Homo sapiens: one gene and its partner. The protein of the gene in region 2 interacts with the protein of the main gene of each other region in a pairwise test. Each region holds a gene or a part of one and is shown on either strand. Other genes may lie near its edges.

Region 1 (5,315 bases), on a different chromosome or scaffold from region 2:
TGACTTCCTCTCTTCCTATTTGAATACCCTTTACTTCTTTCTCTTACCTGGCCAGAACTTCCAATACAAGCGAAAAACAAACAACCCCATTAAAGACACAGACACTTCTCTAAAGAAGACATATGAGCAGCCAAAAAATATTTTTAAAAATGCTCAACATCACTAATGAGAAATGTGAATCAAAACCACATCTCACACAAGTCAGAATGGCTATTATTAAAAAGTTTCAAAGCAACATATGCTGGCTAAGCTGCAGAAAAAAAACATAATGTGTATACATTGTTTGTGGAAATGTAAATTAGTTCCGCCACTGTGGAAAGCAGTTTGGAGATTTCTCAAAGAACTTAAAATAGAACTACTATTTGACCCAGCAATCCCAATATTAGCTATATATCAAAAAGAAAATAAGTTGCTCTACCAAAAAGACACCTCTACTCATACATTCATCACAGCACTATTCGCAATAGCAAAGACATGGCATCAACCTTGGTGCCCATCAATGGTGGACTGGATAAAGAAAATGTGATACATATACACAGTGGAATACTAGACAGCTATAAAAAAATAAAGAAATCATGTTCTTTGCAGCAACATGGATGAATTGGGAGGCAATAATCCTAAGCAAATTAACACAGCAACAGAAAACCAAATACCGCATGTTCTCACTTATAAGTGGGAACTACATTTTGGATACTTATGGACATAAATATGGGAACAATAGACACTGGGGACTACTAAAGGGGTAGGTACAGATATGAGTAAGCATTGGAAATTTGACTAATATATACCATACTCACTACCTGAGTGGCAGAATCATTTGTATCCAAACCCTCAGCATCACACAATACACCAGTGTAAAAAACCTGCATACGTACCTGAATCTAAAATAAAAGTTGAAATTATAAAAAGAGGAAAAAAAGAATGCTCATGCACAGATATGCATGTAAAAATGCCAGGGAGGGTTAATTCATAGCAACAGTTGCTATTTAACCTACTTTACTTGAGGTTGGCAAAGCAATCATTTTTTAAATATTAATTTCTGTTTAGTACAGATTGTCCTTGGTCAGGACTCCTAAACAGAGTGCAAAGTTCTGATTGTGTAATTACATACTATTGTAGGGTGAAAGAGAATTGGTAAACAGGCTCCTGCTGTGACTATAGTACTAGACTGAAGTAGGACTAAAATTGCTCTAGGACTTACTCTGGTAGAAAAGGTAGACCTATCAATAGGGGAAAAAGTCATACCTAACATGATGTAGAATTTTTTTAAATTGTCATGTATATGAATTGAGAAAAAAAATCATGCTATGCATATTATGAGACCAGTTTCCCCAATGGAATAAAATAAAGTACTTGAACAGCTGCTATATTAGCATCTGTTTGTCCATATCATCATCCAGTTACTAGAAAGACATAATTCCCACTCTTCACTCAATATATAGATGGAAGTGGTTTTTATGGTAAATAAAATTAGATTTGCAATAAGACAAAAGTAATGATTCAGGGCTTGGTTAATGTTAAGTTTAAATGTACATATCATGTTGAGAATTTTCTTTGAACACATAACAAAAAAAAAGTGCTACTGAATGAACATTATTGCAATGTAGTAAAGCAGAATGCAAATTCCTTGAGGTCAGCATTCAAGTCTGTTTTCCTCGCAGCGGTGCCCACACACCTAGCATACTGCCTGGCACACAGTAAATGCTCATTAAATATTTGTGAGGTACATGGACAGGGGAATGTGGTAGACAGCTGATGAAGCTTTTCTCCCACTGTTGCCCTAGGTGGATCATCCATAGTCAATTGATTCTGAACTCTGAGGTCCAAGTTCTGCCCTCCTCCTTCACTCTCCCCACAAGTGGGCGGGACAATCCTCCCTGGATTTGAGCACAGGGGGACGGGGGTGGTCAGAGAGAGGTAGGGGCACTCAGAGATCCAGCAGGTGCTGCACCATGAGTGTCTCTGTGCTGAGCCCCAGCAGACTCCTGGGTGATGTCTCTGGAATCCTCCAAGCGGCCTCCCTGCTCATTCTGCTTCTGCTGCTGATCAAGGCAGTTCAGCTCTACCTGCACAGGCAGTGGCTGCTCAAAGCCCTCCAGCAGTTCCCGTGCCCTCCCTCCCACTGGCTCTTCGGGCACATCCAGGAGGTAGGGAGGAACTCAATGGGGGAGTGGGAGGGCAAAGAGGGATGGGGCTCTGAGACCCTGGTCACAAAATCCATAGAGCAAAGCCTTGTTTTGTAACAAATGTGAGGACTCAAAGGAACACCCAGCCTACCTCTCTGGTCTCAGCTTTTCCCAGTCATGAGGAGCTCACTTCTCCCATGAAGCCCATCCTGCTGGTCCTCAGCTCTATCACCCGTGCCCTCCTTCTGCAGATATCAAGTGTGTCTTGGCAGTCCTGCATGTGGAGGGCAATGCCTGATTGTCTCCAGACTGATTACCCCATAAGCCTTGGCTTTCATCAAAGAACAAGGCTTCTAGATGCTCTCTGCCCAGTCACTCAATGCCATCACTCTGCCTGGCCCTGTGTTTGCCAGGGAGCACAGACACCCATCTGAGGAATCCATGCCATGAGGAGTTTATGGTCTGTGAAGAATACAGGCAGGAATTTGAGAAGGTGTCAGACTGCAGGAAAGGAGCTCACTCTGCTGGGGTGGATATCTGAGGCAGAGATCTGCTGGTATAGGGGACCAACTGGCTAAGTAAGTTTCCCCAAGACTCACGGAATTTCCACAACAGGTGATTTAGGATCTGAAAACCTGACAATTATGGGTACACATGAGGGGGGCAGCCTGCACAATGTTCTCCAGGTGAGGAGACTGGTGTTTGAGTTGCACATTGAACAGGGTGTGTTGACCTCCTGGCTCTCCTCCCACACACCCGGACTGTGAGCTCCCTGGCGGTGAGCATGTCATCCCCTTCCTGTGCCCCGGCAATCAGCAAAATCCTGGCACAGCTTGATGATCAGCTCAGGTGTGTAGAGCAAGCTTGTCCAACCCACGCCCCATGGGGCTGCATGTAGCTCAGGATGGCTTTGAATGTGGCCCAACACAAATTCGTAAACTTTCTTAAAACGTTATGAGATTATTTTGCAATTTTTTTGAGTTCATCAGCTATCATTAGTGTTAGTGTATTTTATGCATGGCTCAAGACAATTATTTTTCTTCCAATGTGGCCTAGGAAAGCCAAAAGATTGGACACACCAGGTGTAGAGGAACAGAGGAAGAAGAGAAAGGAGCAGCAAGAGGGCTGAGGAGGGACACAGCCCATCCCCTGTGCACTGCTATCCCTACAAGGGGAGGGGGGCGGGTAGGAACAGAGCAGGTAAACGGCTGCATGGAGAGGGACTCACCAAGGTGCTATGAATTGAACACACTTAAGTAGAGATAGGGGTTGCAGGGAACTGAGGCCTATTGTTTCTCAGCAAAGGAGGCAACATAGTTCTCAGCAGAGCAGAACAAATGTGGGGACCTGCCAAAGTTCTAACCCTATATGGACTGGTCCCAATACCACTCTGCCTTCTTTCCCATTCTCCTCTTTTACCATATGTTACTCACTACCTCACTACCTGCCTCTGCATTTCAACCTTTAGGTCTCTGATCACACTATGCTTGCTACCTGGAATTATCTTCTCACGCATATCTATCTGTCAAGGCCCAGCACCAAGCTACCTCCTTCAAGAAGGCCTCCTGGGTCTCCCAGTAGTGAAGGGCTGACTCTTTTTTCCATGAGCTATCCTTCTCAAGAGGCCAGAGCAGTGTTAACTTGACTCAGTTATTGTTCTGCAGTGTCATAAGTGTGGGATTCTTCTGGGAGAGACCATCTCTGATTTATGTTTGTAACCCAATAGTCCCTCAGTAAATGATGACTCAGTGAGTGAGGAAGAGCTTTCTAATGTTCAGTTCTGAGTTAGGTCCCTCTTCAAAGCTTCCCCAGATGCTTGTCCTTCATTCCATATCATGTCCATTATCCCCTACTGCACAGCCTCTAATCTTTCTTACCCCCCAACTAGACTGAAAATTCCACACAGATAAGGACCACAGCTGTATCCTAACGCAGTGCCTGAGCCACACTGGGCACATAGTATGTGTGCAGTAAGCATGGGCTGAATGAAGGAGCCTACCCCACAGTAGGGCAAGCTGCCTCAGAGCTGGACAATATGATTATCAGAAGGAGATGGGCAGATATTCGATACCTATGTGGTAGACAGTTGCTTTGATTTACTAGAAGCAGTTGAAATAAAGAAGAGTTGGCTACATGGAACATCACTAGGACCCAATGTCTTTGAGGGTTCCAGATGAGATTAAAGCAAAGCTGAGTCTTGAAAGCTGAGGAGAGGTGGCTGCTCTGTGGCAGAGGGGAAGGGCATTCAAGGTAGAGAAAAGAGCAAGTGCCAGGGCCCAGAAGAGTGAGCAGGTGTAGCTGGTGTGCGATTCAGCAGCAGTGGTGGCATCGGCATTGGAGCTGAAACAAACGGGTGATGGTGGAATTGCCAGCAGGGCTGGAGGCAAGAAAAGAGAAGTTGAAGCCAGAAAGCCAAGGGCTTTGTGATCCACATCGAAGAGTTTAGAAAGATGACTGCAGGCAGCAGGGAGCTCATAATTCGTTGATAAGTGAAAATGAGAATAAGAAACCCAAATCTCAAAATTATTGTCCAACACCAGCACCATATGCATATACTCAGACTCCATCCCATAAATCTGTACATATTCAACATGTAGAATACTATTATGCACACAATTTTATAGTTAATCTTTTTTTGCTTACCAATACACATCCCAAATGCTATTTTATCTTAACAAATATTTACCGTATATGCTGGGATAATATTGAAAATATAACAAGTATGATTATATAAAGGCATTGTGTAATTTAAAATGTTTACATTAATTCATTTTATTCTCTAGATATACTAAATGATTTTACAAATCTACTTATCAACTAATATGAGTTATACACATTGCCCATGGAAATTGTTGTATTTATGACTTCCAGAGATGTTACACAACATGAAGACAATGGCTGACTTAAATTTCTGCTGGCAGCATTGAGCGAGGGCTCATAGCGCTTGGCCTAAGGTCAAGTCCTGGGGAGAGAGCAAGAATCTGGATCACAGCTCAGGTCATCAGAAACAGATCTAAATCCCTAACCTGCGCTACATGGCTCCTGTAGTTGTCCTGCCCTTCACTCCTGCTGCAAAGACTAGAAGTAAATGAAAGTGTTCATCTGTCTACCCTTGTTGACAGCTCCAACAGGACCAGGAGCTACAACGGATTCAGAAATGGGTGGAGACATTCCCAAGTGCCTGTCCTC
Region 2 (4,774 bases):
GAATCCCCTGAACAAAGAATTGTCAGAACTAGAAAACAGGTAGCTAAGAGCTTTTTTTATAAACCAGCATTAACCAGTGAGAAAACATAATTTTAAAAAATTTACAATAGCAATTAAAAATAAAAAATAAAAGAAATTTTAATAACCTATATAGAGAAAACAAACTTTGCTGAAGAATGAATAATTGAAGAATCGTATTGCTGGGTTGAATCAATATTGTAACGAGACCAGGTGTTAGGAAAGTAAACGTAACCACAATCAAAATACCAAGATATTTTTAAAATTTATAAAATATATGTAAACTAAAAAACATAATATATAAATATTTTACAAATAAATAAATTTATATATAAAGAAAATAAAAAAATCTATTTGAAAGATTTATTTATGCACTTAGTATATATTCATTCATGTATTTTTAAAGGAGAGTAAGAAGGAAATATTTCCATTTTTTGAAGGTACTATAGGGCTATAGTTATTAAAATAGTACACTATGGGTATAAGAATAGATAGATAATGGAAGAAGATGTAATATCTAGAAATATATTAAATATACAAAATTATATTATATGACAAAGTGGCATCCTCAAATTACTGATGAAAAAATCAGTCATTTCATAGATGATATCAGGATAATTGGTAGACCATAAAAAATATTGAGTTAGAAGACTATCTAAAAAGGCCAGGTGTGGTGGCTCATGCCTGTAATCCCAGCACTTTGGGACGCCAAGGCGGGCAGATCACCTGAGGTCAGGAGTTCGAGACCAGCCTGACCAATATGGTGAAACCCCATCTCTACTAAAAATAGAAAATTAGCTGAGTGTGGTGGCATGAGCCTGTAATCCCAGCTACTCAGGAGGCTGAGGCAGGAGAATCACTTGAACCCAGGAGGTGGAGGTTCAAGTGCCTCCGAGATCACACCATTGCACTCCAGCCTGGGCAACAAGAGCGAAACTCTGTCTCAAAAAAAAAAAAAAATTCTATCTAAAAAATAAAATTAAGAGTTCTAATGCAAACATAAAAATAACTTTTAGATACATTAAAGGTTTAGGTGTAGAAGACAAGACCACAAAAACTACAGAAGAAAAATAGGTTGTATTAGCCTGGAGTGGAGAAGAGCTGCCAAACATATTCCCCAGGGCAAAAATTATAAAGGAAAAGACTAACAGATATGAAAGCATAAAATTTAAAGCTTTTCATATGGCAAGCCCACTTTGAGTGAAAGGTAAATGACAAACTGAGAAAAATATTTGCAATAAAAATTAATATATCAGGCCAAGTGCTGTGGCTCAGACCTGTAATCCCAGCATTTTGGGAGGCCGAGGTGGGCAGATCATGAGGTCTGGAGATCGAGACCATCCTGGCCAACATGGTGAAACCCGTCTCTACTAAAAATACAAAAATTATTTGGGCGTGGTGGCATACACCTGTAGTCCCAGCTACTCGGGAGGCTGAGGCAGAGAATCGCTTGAACCTGGGAGGCAGAGGTTGCAGTGAGTCAAGATCGTGCCATTGCACTCCAGCCTGCAGACAAAGCGAGACTCCATCTAAAAAAAAAAAAAAAAAAAAAAAAAATTAATATATCAAACCCATGAAGAGGTTTTTTTTTTAGTCCATTAAGAAATAGGCAAATACACTTATGGAAATATGAATAAATATGATTCAAGTACATCAAAAAGAACCCCCCAAAATATTCACCCTCACTACTCATAAAGAAAATGCAAAACTAAAGAGCAAGACTCTTCTTCCCCCCCTATCAAATTGGCAAAAATTAAAAAGAAAGAACAAAAATGCCAGCGCTGGTGAGGAATGGGGGGCTGTGTTTGCTAAAGCATCAGAAAGCATACCCTTTCACCCAGCAATTCCATTCCTCAATTTTATCCTGATGAATCCCTATGGATGTACAAAGATGTAGCTACAAAACAAAGACGTTCATCAACGCATCCTTGCTAATAATCAACCAATGCCAAAAAACCTAAATATTGAACATGGTTGAGTATACTGCGGCAAAGTCATTTGGTGGAATGATATTCAATTATTAAAAATGATATTGTAGAAATAGTTACTGAGCTCAAAAGATGTTGAATAACTAGTTGAGCGAAAAAGCAGTCCCCCCAATACTAAGTATGTTATAATCCCATTTTTGTTTTCTCTCTTTCTAATGTATACATGCACCAGGTCCTGTTTAGTACTGGCAGCGTTTAATTCTCACCTTACACATTAAACACACACAGAACAGAAGTACCAAATCTTATTCCCCAACAACTTATGGACCCTAGAAAGCTCAAGACTGGCTTGTAAATTTCTTTGGAAGTGTTCATAACTTTCCTACCCAACCAGTTACCTGATCTGTCTGCGCCCCACCCAGTCAGCTGACCTGTCTGTGCCTCGCCCAATCAGCTGATCTACCTGCCCCCCCATCAGTCAGCTGTCTGTCATTACAAAGAGCAGAGCAAGTACAGCTAGGGATGGCCAACCCCCAAGTCTACCTATAACAAGGTCCTCACCTCATGGTAGAGACTTGGGTGGAGATTTAGGACATCAGGAAGACCCTTAGGAGGCGCTGGACTCTGAAAGGTAAAAGCTGGGTTTGCCAACCCAGCTTCCCAAGGAAAGGAACAAACCAGTTAAAGGAACAAACCCTAAAGGAACACGCCAGTTTAAGGTCAAACTCCTTCATTCCCTCCCACACTCCCTCCCACTGTCCCCCAAAACAAACAGATCAGAATGCCTTCTGAGCTTCTGGTTGGTGACTGAAGTTCCTTTGCTAGGAGGCAATGCCTTTCTTCCTTTCGAGTACGCTCAGAGAAAGAATTTAAAATGCAAATGTCTTGGCAGGGCGTTGGGTTTCCACCAAAGACCGAAATGATTCTTTTTTATTTTGAAAAGGATAAGAGAGTTGTGGGGTTGGGGGAGGGGATTACCTGTGGGGAGACCACTTCCCAGTTTCAAGTAGAACCGGCTGTCCCTCCTCAGCTCAATGCACGCTATGCCTTGAGATATTTTTGCAGGCGGCTGGGTAGAAACTCCGTTCTGGGCAGCACAGAAAGCAGATGTGCCACGGAGGTGCTGGCGGTGGTGAGGCCCTGGCCCTGGAATGATAACATGTGAAGCCTGCAGCACAAGGGCCAGGCAGGGCAGCAGCTGGAGCCGGAAGTAGAATGAGGGTCCTTTGGCCTCAGAGCAGGGGGGACTCTTGGAACCATCACTCACTGCTGATGGCCTTTTCCTCCACATCCTTCCCGGGACCATGTGAAGCTTCAGATATCCTGGTGACCAAGGAGAAGTCAGATGCCCCAAGAGGGCAGCTCAAGCCAAGTACCCATGGCAGGAACCTCTCCTCTTCCAGGGAAAGCAGAACCAAAATAGGAAACCATCAACTCTCCCTCGTTTCGGGGAATCATTTTCAAACAGTTCCAAAACCTCACACATACGTAAATATACAGTGAGCCTGTGCCCGCTCATTAATGAGGAAACCAGCACGATGATAGAGCTGGCTTAAAGGAGGATCCAAGAAACTGAGATGAGCTCCTCATGGAAGCTAGAGTAAGACTCAAAGTTAGATACCAAATAGTTAACATCACAGAGGGGAATAAAACCATAACCTTTGAGGTTATCTTTTCTATTGAACAAAAATCTCTTGCAACTTATCTCACATCCACCAGTTAACCTTCAATTTTAAAGAACCTAAGCCCTAATTAATGACAGATAGTTAAACAAAATTACCTTCTACATGACCCTTAAATGAGCTTGTTGAAAAATACTTTCGCACGATTTTTTTTTTTTTAAGATGGAATCTCGCTCTGTCACCCAGGCTGGAATGCAGTGGCACGACCTCGGCTCACTGCAACCTCTGCCTCCTGGGTTCAAGCGATTCTTCTGCCTCAGCTTCCCGAGTAGCTGGGACTACAGGCGTGCACCACCATGCCTGGCTAATTTTTGTATTTTTAGTAGAGACGGGGTTTCACCATATTGGCCAGGCTGGTCTCGAACTCCTAACCTTGTGAGCCGCCCACCTCGGCCTCCCAAAGTGCTGGGATTACAAGCATGAGCCACCGCGCCCAGCCTTTCCTATGATTTTCAACAGGCCTGCTGCCCAATTCCTGAGTCCCTCCCACCCCCAGTTAAGTGGAGAAAGAGCTAGGATGGAGGCCAGGGAACTTGAATGCTTGAAGGAGAGGCTGAATAACTTAGTGGCTTCTAGTCCTTGGGACCAGACCATTGTACTTGCAAATACTGGGTCTGCTACTTACTAACTGTGGGCCTTCAGCAAGACGTTTAGCTTGTGAGCTTCCGTTTCCTCATCTGTAAAATGGGTGTATAGCAATGCCTCCCTGTCAATGCAGTTAGTGAGGATTAATGTTGGCCTAATTGATTTCACAGTGCTGGGGGCAGTAAGGGTTGCAGTGGTGTTAGCTTAGAAGGTAGGTCCTGGTAAAGTCACAGGGAGAAATGAGAAGGGACGTGGGGAGGTGGGCCCTCCCCCCGTGAAGTCTTAGGGACCCAGTTGCCATGGAAATGAATGAAACAGTTTATCCTGCTTTGATGTGGCTGGGTGGCAGAGGAAGTGGGCCTGTTATCAAGGCTGGGGGCCTCCCCCTGCTTCCTGACTCCACCCCCGTATGATCGCCCAGTGCCTCAATTCTGGAGGTAGCAGGAAACCTCACGTCAGTGCCACTGGGTCCTGCCCACCACAGCCCTCTTGGGCTCAGCCCACATGTTTATTGAATATTTACTCTATGCCTGCATAGCTGTGCCGACCACAATACTTTCC

What was found.
Region 1: the proteins of PIK3R5 (region 2) and CYP4A11 interact in a two-hybrid assay, tested with the Homo sapiens proteins (one large-scale study listed by IntAct).

What each region holds. Positions count from the first base shown.
Region 1 is NC_000001.11:46,938,071-46,943,385, reverse strand, and holds the start of CYP4A11 (cytochrome P450 4A11), read left to right. Parts: upstream 1-1,909; 5' UTR 1,910-1,952; coding exon 1,953-2,147; intron 2,148-2,569; exon of another isoform or gene 2,570-2,704; intron 2,705-5,248; coding exon 5,249-5,315. UniProt on the Homo sapiens protein: A cytochrome P450 monooxygenase involved in the metabolism of fatty acids and their oxygenated derivatives (oxylipins).
Region 2 is NC_000017.11:8,899,051-8,903,824, reverse strand, and holds part of PIK3R5 (phosphoinositide 3-kinase regulatory subunit 5), read left to right. Parts: intron 1-1,508; exon of another isoform or gene 1,509-1,547; intron 1,548-2,507; exon of another isoform or gene 2,508-2,602; intron 2,603-2,924; exon of another isoform or gene 2,925-3,028; intron 3,029-4,774. UniProt on the Homo sapiens protein: Regulatory subunit of the PI3K gamma complex. Required for recruitment of the catalytic subunit to the plasma membrane via interaction with beta-gamma G protein dimers. Required for G protein-mediated activation of PIK3CG.